Linked DNA regions of Homo sapiens: regions 1, 2 and 3 are each reported to be linked to region 4. Evidence: microRNA targets listed by miRTarBase, many of them from high-throughput screens and not tested one by one. Region 4 holds a microRNA gene; each other region holds the end of a gene's coding sequence. Distances are between the middles of the regions.

What was found. The annotated mature microRNA hsa-miR-3924 reads AUAUGUAUAUGUGACUGCUACU and lies in region 4 at 1,181-1,202, shown strand. An mRNA with a match to its seed (bases 2 to 7 or 8) in the 3' UTR can be bound and repressed. Matches are read on the target gene's strand: a 7mer-m8 pairs with bases 2 to 8, a 7mer-A1 pairs with bases 2 to 7 and ends in A, and an 8mer does both.
Region 1: miRTarBase lists SYPL1 as a target of hsa-miR-3924. Seed matches in the 3' UTR shown: 7mer-A1 at 693-699 and 7mer-A1 at 993-999.
Region 2: the mRNA of VENTX is a reported target of hsa-miR-3924. Seed matches in the 3' UTR shown: 7mer-m8 at 911-917.
Region 3: the mRNA of CRIM1 is a reported target of hsa-miR-3924. Seed matches in the 3' UTR shown: 7mer-m8 at 1,579-1,585.

What each region holds. Positions count from the first base shown.
Region 1 is chr7:106,089,175-106,092,358 of GRCh38, reverse strand. It overlaps SYPL1 (synaptophysin like 1), which reads left to right. Exons shown (of 5, transcript NM_182715.4): 5 at 420-1,854. The coding sequence ends at 554. Among named protein-coding and RNA genes, the nearest start is that of SYPL1, 22 kb to the left of the region's middle.
Region 2 is chr10:133,239,600-133,242,764 of GRCh38, forward strand. It overlaps VENTX (VENT homeobox), which reads left to right. Exons shown (of 3, transcript NM_014468.4): 2 at 77-237; 3 at 333-2,329. The coding sequence ends at 707. Among named protein-coding and RNA genes, the nearest start is that of VENTX, 3.3 kb to the left of the region's middle.
Region 3 is chr2:36,548,250-36,551,433 of GRCh38, reverse strand. CRIM1 (cysteine rich transmembrane BMP regulator 1) reads right to left here. Exons shown (of 17, transcript NM_016441.3): 17 at 299-2,909. The coding sequence ends at 2,733. Among named protein-coding and RNA genes, the nearest start is that of FEZ2, 48 kb to the left of the region's middle.
Region 4 is chr10:57,302,507-57,305,690 of GRCh38, reverse strand. It overlaps MIR3924 (microRNA 3924), which reads left to right and starts at 1,132; the gene lies at 1,132-1,212.

The DNA.
Region 1 (3,184 bases), not on the chromosome of region 4:
GGGATGGGAAGTAAAGTTGTGTGACTCCTCTTTTTTTGTGGCTACAACTGTTGGATTGGAGTAGAAGAGATGGTAGGAGGGGGTGATAAGTAAATGGGAAAAGTTACACAAGCAGTTGATAATCATTCTAAATAGGAGAAAAGTGAAAAGTATTTGGAAGAGTAAATCTCTTAGCCATGATTTTATATGTTAGAGATTTAGCCTTATTTCATTGGGAATAAGTCATTATATAACCACATTTTGTACATTGAAGTGTAGTCTTCCTTATTTCTCATTGTGTGTAGTATTAAACTTTAAGTGAAATAATGGCGTACTTCCTAAAAATGTTAAATATTTAAAGAAAAAGTGAGATTTTTAAGTAGGGCATGAATTTTTATAAGTAGGTATTTGATTTTCATATTTCTTTTTCTCTTTCATAGATATTTGGCTTTCTAAATATGATACTCTGGGGAGGAAATGCTTGGTTTGTGTACAAGGAGACCAGCCTACACAGTCCATCAAATACATCTGCCCCTCATAGCCAAGGAGGTATTCCACCTCCTACCGGAATATAATTAAAGGGAGAAATACACTGTATGAAGTATATGTTGATACTATGACATGTTGCCAACACCTTGAGAAGCATTATTTGTTTCTAATAAAAGTAATGGCTTTGTCAATATATTGGTGGGTTTAAAACTTTGCTGCTTTTTTACATAAAGCCTGTGCCTTTCCTAGAAAGTTAAGATGTAAATGTATTCTCACATGTAAATTTGAAAGTTCAGGGGTCTATTATGAAATGATACACATTTTTAAATGAACCATAATTTTTTTCACTAAGCTGTTTGCCTTCCAAAGTGTTTACACCTTAAGCCTTAACATGTATCTTCATTCAGAAAACAGTTATATTGTCATACCATAGTAGGAAGAAAAACCTTTATTTGGAATATACACTACTGTAAGTTTGTACAGATCATATACCTACCACCTGTCTTTGCTTAAAGAGCCTTGATTACATAAATATGTAGGAAAAAACATATTGAGTTCAAAATTTATATCTAACATTGTTTATGTTATGATTTTTTTTTAATTGCAAAGACTAGGTGTATATTTTTTTCTGTTTTTCTAAATGACCCGTGGTACTTAATAGGTGTACTAAAATTGTGTTGGGAGCAGGGATTTGGAAATTTCTGAGAGATGTGTAGTTAATTTAGTAATTCTGTTTCATGAGATATGATCTGTTATGCTAGTGGTTTAATAGGCTTGCTATGTAAGTAGAACGTGGCTCAACTAGATATCTTTATATGTATGGGCATTACTCTTAGTGATATTTGTTTCCTGTCCTTTGTTGCTCATGCTGTTTAAGTGCAGGCTGAGACCCAGCCTCTTTGTAAGTACAGTAAAATAATCCACCGTTTTTTACAGACCCTAGTCAAAGGGTTAAAAAAATTAAGATTGCTTTCCATGTTTGAAATTTACCATTGAGAGTCAATGAAGTTGCTATTTTGAGTTTAGCATTGATATTGTGAAAATAAGTGCAATTTGGATTTCATGTTTCTTAATATTCATTCTTGTTTCACAAATGAATGATTAAGGAATTATGCATCATAAAGGAACCTAAGTGAGGTATATGATGAGTGTATTGTCTTTGCACACACATATAGGTATATTCTGAATACAAGCTTATTCACATTTTGCTTCCTAATCTTTTTGTTGTACAGGGATTCAGGTTTCTTATTCTTACAACATGATTGTTTATATGTGAAGCACATCTTGCTGTTGCCTTATTTTTGATGCTTTTATTCATGACAAGAATTGTCAATATAAGAATGTATATCTTTTTTGCAACCAATTTAATAAAGGAGTTGAAAGAAAGAGTGCACTGATTGTTAATATTACAAAGAAACCTTCATCTTAAAGGCATTGAGCAGTGCAAAACAGAACTGATTTTCAAAGCAGGAAATAGAATCACAGTTTTAATGTTTGGCAAGGAATAAAACAGACAGAAATGCTTTGGAGACTATGGTTCTATCCTTTTTTCTTCCGACCTCATTTAGAAAATACTTATTTGCAACTCTTAGATTGTTTTCCTGATATACCTTTTCTCATTAATTGTCTAATTAACTAGCAAAGATTCCTGCTTAAGAGTGTGTGCTCTGCAACCGAACTGCCTAGATTTGAATCTTGTCTACACCACTTACTAGCTGTTTAACTGTAGGCAAATTGCCCTCTGTGTGCCTCAGTTTGCTTATGTGGAAGTCGGAAATAAAGTAAGTAGTTCCCTCCTGTTTACTGGGGATATGTTTCAAGACCCCCTGGGATGCCTGAAACCAAGTGTAGTACCAAGCCCTATGTGAACTGTCTTTTTTCCTATCCATACATGCACCTATAATAAAGTTTATCAATTGAGCACAGTAAGAGATTAACAAGGACTAATAATGAAGTGGCACAATTAAAACCATACTGTAGTAAAAGTTATGTGAATATGGTCTCTCAGAATATCTTACTGTACTGTACTACGGGGAACTGAAACTAAGAATAGTTAAACCACTTTCCTGATCTCAGTGTGTTTATGATTTAAAAGTGAATTAACAAATGTAAAGCCCTTAGAACAGTGTTCCGCATTTAGTAGGCACTCTATAAATGTTAGCTACGATTACTAACTTTTGATAGCATCTGATATAGAGATTCTTAAACTAGGAATTCATGGGGCTGGAGCCGTTAGGGTGGTGGTTTTGGACAAAGAGAGGATTGGCGTCAGGCTTTCAAGCTTGTCCCTTTACAATCCTTAAAGAGTTCTGGATCTTTTGGTGTGTTTTATTTTTCTGTTGGTTGACATTCATAAGGTTAATGAGATCAAAATTTAAAACTTAAAAGTATTGAGATTAAAGTAGATCTTAAAAGGACTTCTATTGCCTTTTCCCTTTGTGCTTTTGAATCAACATTACAAGGTTAACCCATTTATAGGATAATTTCCAGGAGAGAAGCAATAAAAGCTTTACTTACTAGGTGTTAGGTTGTAGAGAATTATTTATAAAAAAGATGAGCATTACTAATGTTTTAGTGAACAGAGGTCAGTTGAATAGATGTTTAACCTACTGTAAATGTTAAAGGCAATATTGCTTATGTTTCACATTTAAAATTTTTTCATATAGTATTTCAGATTAATAGGTAAGTATACAAAATAATATTTAACAAATGCTTT
Region 2 (3,165 bases), 76 Mb from region 4:
TCACCTGTTACCCGTGGGCACGAGCTTGCCCCATGGGGTGGCATGTTGAGCCAAATGCCCTTACCCTCTATGTCAGGGTTGAGTAAGGAGCCAAATACCTTGCGGGCCCCCCGTGTCCGCACAGCCTTCACCATGGAGCAGGTCCGCACCTTGGAGGGCGTCTTCCAGCACCACCAGTACCTGAGCCCTCTGGAGCGGAAGAGGCTGGCCAGGGAGATGCAGCTCTCAGAGGTCCAGGTGAGGTGGGCCGGGCAGGCTGGGGTGGGCAGGGGTGGGCAAGGGTGGGCTGGTGGCCTAGTCTCACCCCTGTTCTGATCTTGCTTTTCCTACAGATAAAAACCTGGTTTCAGAATCGCCGCATGAAACACAAACGGCAAATGCAGGACCCCCAGCTGCACAGCCCCTTCTCGGGGTCTCTCCATGCGCCCCCAGCTTTCTACTCAACGTCTTCTGGCCTTGCCAATGGCCTGCAGCTGCTGTGCCCTTGGGCACCCCTGTCCGGGCCCCAGGCTCTGATGCTGCCCCCTGGCTCCTTCTGGGGTCTCTGCCAAGTGGCACAAGAGGCCCTGGCATCTGCGGGAGCTTCCTGCTGCGGGCAGCCTCTGGCGTCCCACCCCCCTACCCCAGGCCGGCCTTCGCTGGGACCAGCCCTGTCCACGGGGCCCCGGGGCCTGTGTGCTATGCCACAGACGGGGGATGCATTTTGAGGAGGCACCTCTGACTCCCACACTCGCGGTCTTGCTGATCGCACCTGGCTCCTACCTGGAGGACTCAGTTGTTCTGTTTACATCCTGGTGGCACCTCTCACCCTGACCCACACAAAGGTTCTGGAGATTACTGGAGAATATATATAAATATATATATGTACGTATATATGTAAATACACATATACGTATATATAAATATATATATACATATGTGTGTGTATATATATATATATTTTTTTTTTTTTTTTTTTTTTTGAGACGGAGTGTTGCTCTGTCACCCAGGCTGGAGTGCAATGACGCAATCTCGGCTCACTGCAACCTCCGCCTCCTGGGTTCAAGCGATTCTCCAGCCTCAGCCTCCCGAGTAGCTGGGATTACAGACACCCGCCACCACGCCCGGCTAATTTTTTCTATTTTTAGTAGAAATGGGGTTTCACCATGTTAGCCAGGCTGGTCTCAAACTCCTGACCCTGTGATCCGCCCGCCTCGGCCTCCCAAAGTGCTGGGATTACAGGCATGAGCCACTGCACCCGGCCCTGAGAATATATTTATTAAAGCCACCTCTTCACTGAAAGTTACCGAAAGAGTCGGTTTAGGAAGGAAACGAAGGGTCAGTGAACAGAGTCAAATGCAGAAGTGGGCTTGTCATGGGTAGGGCTTTCGGCGTACGATAAAAGGATCATTTGTTTTTTAAAAGGGGTTGGAAAAACTGGTTTTCCAGTTGGAAACAGTAAAGGTTGTAAGCTTTGTGTGTACAAAAGAAAACAGGGAATGCAGGTGTGTTTATAGCGTTGTGGTTCAAGTCCCTCTTAACAAGAACTCCAAAGCTGGAAAGCAGGAGGGAACAAAGGTGAACATGAAGGCGAGGATGCTGGGGCCCTGCAGTGCGCTCTAGGCTGTGCGTGAGCCGGGACTGTACCCACAGCTTGCTGAGGGCTGCTCTTCTTGGGCCAGGGAAAGCAGGGCAGCCGGGACCTGCGGCTGTGCCTGGACTGAAGCTGTCCCGCAGGTCCCCACCCTCCAACACGTGCTCACCTGTCCCCCTGCTCGCAGCAGCCTCGGGACAAAACAATGACTCAAGGACAGCACTTCTTGCAGAAGGTCTGGAAGTGCCCAGAATGGGAGGCACGGAAGCCCCTCCCGGGGAGGACTCCCGCGTTGATGGACCGTTCTTGGTGCAGACTCCTGACTGCGTGCATGAAACCTGAGACAAGTGCAATTCCTTCCATGTCGCCCCAGAGTGCCCAGGAGGCAGGCAGTGCGGGGTGCCCAGGCAGACGGGTTCAGCCTGCAGAACTGGAGGCGACCTGTGAAACCCACCCGGGCACCCCAACAGGAACAGAAGCGTGGTCCTGCGGCTGCGTCCCCAGCGAGTTTCACTTTCCCCTTGCTCGTTTCTCCCTTGTTGTAAGTGTTTACAACTGGCATGTGCTTTTAAACGTCAGGTAAGAGGGGAACAGCTGCTGTACATCGTCCTGGCGAGTGACAATGTGACAGAAGCCTGGGCGAGGCCCTCGGAGGGCAGCAGCTGGACAGGGACTACTGGGTTTGGCCTGGACAGCACTGATTTGTGGATGTGGATGGGGGCACGTTGTCCGTGATAAAAGTACAAGTGCCCCTCACCGCCCGTGGAGATTGCTTTCTGGTCCCCTGTGTGGCCCCAGGCCACAAACCACACCGTCTTGGTCCTGAACTCTCCCGGTGAGTAAGGGCCCTGGCCTGGTGGTGTCTCGAGGTCCTGCCAGCACACTGGGCCCTACAAGGTGGGCAGCCCCTTGGGGCTGAGCTGTGCCTGTTCGGAGGCACACCTGGGCCTCCTTAGGGCCCTGGCTCCATCCTGCAGATGAGGAGCTCTGGAAAAGGGCAAAGTCCCGGAGGCTGAGGAGTGGGGCGGGCTCCAAGTGTCCAGCAGGGACCTAGACCCTGAGTTCTGGGGGATCCACAAGGCCCTCAGGCCCAGGGAAGGCTCTGCCACCCACGACTTCCAAACTTCTCTCCCTGTCCCCCATCCGGGGCTGCAGAGTGAGTTGGCCCAGGCCTCATGGGCTGCTGGTATCTGGGTGGACCTTGAAGACCAAGATGCCCCCAAGCCCTACTCCACCCACCTGCTGCGTCACAGCTGGCCGGGATGCAGTGACCACTCCGCTGGCCTCAGCCTGTTTCCGCTCTCCCCTGGGGGCCTTCCTCACATCCCCACAGCCTGTTTCCGCTCTCCCCTGGGGACCTTCCTCACATCCCCGCAGCCTGTTTCCCACTCTCTTCTGGGGTCCTCTGGCTGACAGCTGGACGTCAGTCCCAGAGTTTGGCAAGTCCTCTGCTCCTGGATGCCCCCAGCTGCCCCCACAAGCACAGTGCCCCAGGTGCTCTTGGCCCCACCCCACTCAACATCCCCATGTGGACATCTTACAAGCACTGGGGGTCCTGACCTGACTGGGGGCGCAGGGCGGCGGGGCAGAGA
Region 3 (3,184 bases), not on the chromosome of region 4:
CTTCAGCATCGAACCACTGTAGGATTTCCCACCACAGTCCTCCTGTGCGTAGCAAGTTAATTTTGATACCAGCTATGAGCACGTTTCTGACAGCAGGTAGGTTTCTTGTCTCCCTAAAAACAGCATCGCTATTCTCTGTACTCTGGGAGACACTTTTCTTTTTGCAAGGATACCTTGGGAAAGACCCGCCTAATGACAAAAGCACGGGACTTCTTGTTACACCAGGGGTTCATTGGACTGATAACCTTAAAAGTCTTTCGGATCTCAGAGATGGAATCTTTTTGCAAGTTACACTGTGTGATTTCAACTCAAAATGTTTATTTCCTGCCAAGAATCAAGTTGCAGATAATTCTCTTACAGCTTTTTTGAAGAAAACAAAAACAAACTGTAGAACTATGATGCACTCCAAGTGCCATATATCTATTTTATTCTTCAGGAAATTATATTTTTCTTTTACAAGAGCACAACAGGAACCAAAGTAAAAGAGTAATAGATACAGCACTCAGGATAAATCATATCTTTAAAATAATAATAAAAAAATTTACACCTTGTCCTATATCCTGTTAGTATTTTCATAATATGGCCATGATTGAAAAAACAAAAAGCAAGCATCTACAATTTTTTTTGATAAAGACTTTTTATGCCAGGAATGGATTAATTACCAACAAAATTTATACTAATCAGGCTGATGTCAATCTATTTTTGTAATGTATCATTAACAAATTTATTTTGGAAAAGATAAAAATATTGCCCCTTGATAATAAATCTTTTTTTCCTTTGATGCAAACAGCTAGAACACCTTTTTCTTTTTCTTTTTGATATTCTAAGACAAAAAAATGGTTAATCTTCAGATTAATAAATTAGGTCATTATAATAATAAATTAATTTTTTTTAAAGTTCAGCAACCTCTGTCCAAGTATTTACAACAATACTTGAAAGTTCCTTTACAAAACAGAACACATTTTCTTTTCACGTTAAGCATACTGGGTATCTGTGTCTTTCACAACAAGCATTTTTAAAAGAAAACTCAATGCACAAATGGGTTAATTAGTATAAAAGTGCTAAGGGCTGTTTGAAAAGTTACCACTATAGTATACAGTCAGTTATATTTGAGGCATACTACAACAAACTTCCAGCTTATTGTGGACAATATTCCAGTAGTTGTTTCAAACCATTGTTTGAAAAAAAAAAAAAAAAAATCCAGGAGCTGATTAGTGATGCAGATAAGAACTGCCATCAATGTCTCTGGCCAGTGAGCAAATTGAAAACCAACTGAAAGCAAATCCAAATGAGGAAGATTTTAATAAAGGAATACCCTTCTCCATAGCAGGTGCAATGCTGACTGCTCAAGGCGTGCGTGCGCGCGCACACACACACACACACACACACACATACATACTCTCACACACACATCTTTCCAATTAAACTGCAGGTAGAATGAGATTTTGTGTTATTCAAAAAATTTGTAAGTGATCAAAAGCACTGCTATGGAATGCCTGTTTATCTGCCTTTGTTCTGGTTAAAATCTCATAAAAATACATTCAACAGGAAAACATAAATTGTATGTGTATAAATATATATGTATATATATATATTATATACACATGCACACAAATACTTTTGTTTTTTGAAGCATAAGATAGTTACATAAATACTCCTATAATTGCTAAAGTTTAAAGAGGCATCATTTTTTTTGAGCTTCAACAAAGGTGCTTGAATAATATACAATTAAAATGAAGTAGTTTCTATTTTGTAGAATCAGTATATAATAAGGAAAAAGAATCCCCAAACAGTCTTTTTAAAAAAAGTTTCTTCTTAAGCTAGAGCTTCAACAAAAACTATGAACAACCAACAATATAACAGAACAAAGCAACAACAAACAGTGAAATATAGCCCCTGGAAATGCCTGGTGTTCGTCACCCTCTCCCTCCTCTTCCTGTCACGTTGTAAAAAAAAAAAAGCTCCAGTGCTCACATCAAGAAATGACTTAGATCTTGTTCATGTGCTGACTCTGCTAGGAACTGGCTGATTGATTGGCTTGGAAGAAAATAAAAGCAGCAAAAAGTGTAACTGTATATATCCTTAATAACCCGCTTTAGAGAAATGCCGCTATCGCATTTCTCTGGCTTCCTCACTGCCTACTGCAGTTGTGACTGTATAGAAAAGAAACTTGTGGCTTTAGACCTGGGATGGCTGTCAAAGGGTTCTGATGTGCTCGTCTGGTAGTTCTAAGGTGGTTATGGCAGCTGGGTCGCAAGGCCTTTTTTGTTTCCTGCTCATTCAGGCCTGAGCTTTGCAGCAACCAGTGCAGTCTTCAGAGCAATAGGAAAAAAATAACCTCTGGGCCACTGAACTGCTTTTATGTTACCAGGTTTCTCCCCGAGCCAAGCTGACCAATTTTTCTTCCCAACACCACCCTCCCACCCATTTCCCCATCCAAACTCACTGTCCCCACCCCAAATATCTCTACAGCTATCTTACAGGCAAATATATCTTAGCAACTTTAAAAACTTTGGTTCTAAGAAAACACTTGGTCAGTTATCTTGAGGAAAAGTGGGAATGCTTGTTCTGCACATTGCTGTAGACAGAGCCCATCCCAGTAAGGTCTTAGCGCTGTACATCAAGTCACAATCCAATACAATCCACTAAGCAAGTGCACAAATTCTAGTTTACTTTTTAGAGCAGATTTAGTCGTCTTCCGTCTTTTGAAACCTCATCCTAGTTGCCTTTCTTCACACTGTTTGGTAGAAATTGTCTGCCTGTAGATGGTTCTGTTTTTGCATGCTGTAGAAGCCACTGAATCTTGCATCTGGTTCTGCAATTCTTAGCATTCTCTGGGAACTGTCCACCTGGACTCTGGTTCCTTTCTTGCAGTCCACAGATACTAGCTGATTATTTAAGGAAGAAGGCTATTTAATGAGAGGAGGAATAAAACCACAAAAAATTAGTTGCTTTACATTATCTCAAATGAACAGAAATTTAGTACCTAACTCAGGTGAGATAACAGTTTCACAATTCATTGATTGATAGCCTGTATGCAGATTATCACATCTTGTTCTAGTACCAACTATACTTTTATGAGGGACACTGACAAACTGTATTTTAAGGTGAAATGTCAAGAAACTGTCAAATAGGGAGATGAAGGAACTGAAAAAAAAAAAAAAAAGACTGGTGAAATGATTTC
Region 4 (3,184 bases):
TGAAATTTCCAGAGAAGTAAACTCTAGCAAATGAAAGCATTTAAATGGGTTTTTGAAAATTGTTATTTTTTGTTTCTTGCATGTCATCATAGTACAAACAAAATTATTGAAAAACATCAGGTGTTTTGTTTTGCAAGAACTTGAAATTGTGTTTTCTAAATTAGTAAGAATAGAAACAAATTAACTACAAATCCCAAGTAATAGAGACAGTCACTGACTCTGGAAGATTGACATCTTAAAAGTTTCTGTGTCTATTGATATTATAATGTGGTTTGTGTCTTTAGTTCTGTTTATGTGATGAATCACAATGATTGATTTGCGTATGTTGAATCAGCCTTGCATCCTGGGGATGAAGACTATTTGATCGTGGTGCATAAGGTTTTTGGTGTGCTGCTGGATTCAGTTTGCCAGTATTTTGTTGAGGATTTTTGTATCTATGTTCATCAAGGACATTGGCTTTAAAGGTTTCTGTTTTTATGGCATCTCTGTCAGGTTTTGGTATCAAGATGATGCTGGCCTCATAGAATGAGTTAGAGAGGAGTTCACAGGAACATGGATGGAGGCAGAGGCCATTATCCTTAGCAAACTAATGCAGGAACACAAAACCAAAGATTGCATGTTCTCACTTGTAAGTGGGAAATAAATGATGAAAACACATGGACACATGGGAGGGAACAACACACATTGGAGCCTGTTGGAGAGTGAGTGGTGGGAGGAAGGAGAGGATCAGAAAGAGTAGCTAATGGATGCTGGGCTTAATACCTGGGTGACAGGATGATCTGTGCAACAAACCACCCTGGCACAAGTTTATCTATGTGACAAACATGCACATCCTGCACATGTGCCCCTGCTTAAAATAAAAATTGGAAATTAAAAAAAAATGTTTCTATGAAAAAACTTCTCTATGAAAAAAGTTTTCTATGAGAAACAACACTCTGGAGCTCTTCACATACATCATTTCCTGGAGATTTTTAATGCAGTATAGTTTTTAAATACTCTGAAATGTCCTGTGAAAAGTAAACCTGGTTAAACTGATTGAACCTGATATTTTCCAAAACAAATATATAGATACACACAGAGAGATACATGTATGCGCACATATGTGTACATAAATATGTATTTAAATTAAAATAAATGAAAAAGTAGTAGTCAAATATGCAGATCTATGTCATATATACAGATATGTATATGTGACTGCTACTTTTTTGTTTAATTCTCTTACCCCTATCTTTCTCTTTTCTATGTATGCAGGTATGTAACAGATATGCAATTGTACCTTGGAAGATGCTTTTCTCATATTTTGGCATCACCTATTGTTTAATCCTAAAGCCAAGGAAAGACTCAATATTTAACACTTGAATTTAAGATTATAAATTATATTTACCAAAAAGGCAAATATTATCCTAACACTGCATTTTAATTTCATGACTTCCAATATATCTGGAGATTAGGGAGGAAAAAGGTGTTAAAATTTTTATTTTAAAGTACATCACTTTACAGTTTTCTGACAACTATAGCTGACAAATTTGTTTTGTCTCAAAGATAATTTAGAGTGACAAGTTATTTCTTTTGGGGGCCACAGATGCAAGAAAAGATTTACTTCATCTGCTTATTACCCTAGAAATCTCTAAACAAAATTCTAGTTCAACTTGCATTTGTGATTTCTCTAGACTTTACTTTATTTACCAGTGCCCTATATGGACAAGATCATTTAATTAAAAAAAACCCTTAGAATTATAAAATTATAAAGTAAAATTGAAGGAAATGTATGGAGTATTTCATTGAACCTTATCATTTCTTTGTGTGCATGTGTTTGTGTGTGCGTGTGTGTCTGTCTGTCTGTGAGAGAAAGACAAAGCACAATGACTTAAATTGGCCATTTTGTCTCCCTATATTGGACAACTAGAGTCATGAATGCTGATTTTGCTGAGTCAGCATCCCTACTGGGAAACACAGAGGCCACTTGGTAGAGGCAAATATAAACGTTCTTGGGAAACACATTTTTGTTTAAATTTTCCTCATAAATTTATTAGACTAAAATCAACTGGTATAACAGAAATAAAAACACGGTGCAAATATAAACTTTTATTTTTATATTGATTCATTATTTGCTTTATAAATTTTTTATTTTATAAATAAAATGGCCTTATGTAATTGCAATGGCATACATGAATTTTTTTCCAGGTATTGTTTGACTTTTAATAAGCTGGTTAGTGACTTTCCACTAAGTAAATCTTCACGACTAAATAGTGTACTGCAAGGATGCAAATACAACCCCAGGCCTTTGTCAATAAGCTCCCTCTATGCTCCAGTGTAAAATAAAATTATCGTTTGCTTCTTCACATCTCATATCCCTTCTCCATTTTGTACTGTGTAGAATTTGTACTTTTGCTTTGCATTTAAGGAAATACCTGTCACTTATCTTTTTTTTTTCTTTTGTAGCTTTCATGCTAATAAAGAATTGGCTGTCCTCACCTAGCAAAATATTTTTATGCACAAACTACAATGACATGGTTGCCAACCTGGTTTAATGGTTTGAATTAAGAATGACCATTTATTTATGATAATAGAAATGCTCTCAATAAACCAGTTCAGTGCACTATATGCCATAAGTAGACTTACTAAATTGAGAGGACAGAGCCTGGTAAAAAGAAGTCAACTCCTCATCAAACAAAGAAGAAAAAAGAAAGATTGAAATAACAGACTAATTCATTTTTGATACAACGTTTTTAAAATCTTTTGAGGGAGAAATTGTCTGCTCTCTGCAAATGCAAACCAGCTAGTTTCTGCTTCCAAACAATTGAAGAGTATTGCTCACAAAATTATAAAGAAGGCTGTTTGTTTATGGAGCTCTCACACATCTCCTTTCAGTCTTTCTCTTGACTTTTCCCTCCCTACTCCATCAGAAACTATGTGATTCCTTATTCCTGACATCACAAGCTCAATGCCACAAAAGCCAGTCATTTAATAAAGGTGTGAAGACAACAGTGTGTGTGTGTGTGTGTGTGTGTGTGTGTGTGTGTGTGTGTGTGGCATGAATTTTACAGATGTTTGAGTGCACGTGTGCATGTGCTTTTGAAGCAGGGATTTATTTCTCAGGTACTACCAATTGTTGCTAGAACTAATTGCAGGCTGTAAAAATAACGTAGATACCTACATTTTTATTTGGAATTCCTTAATTTCT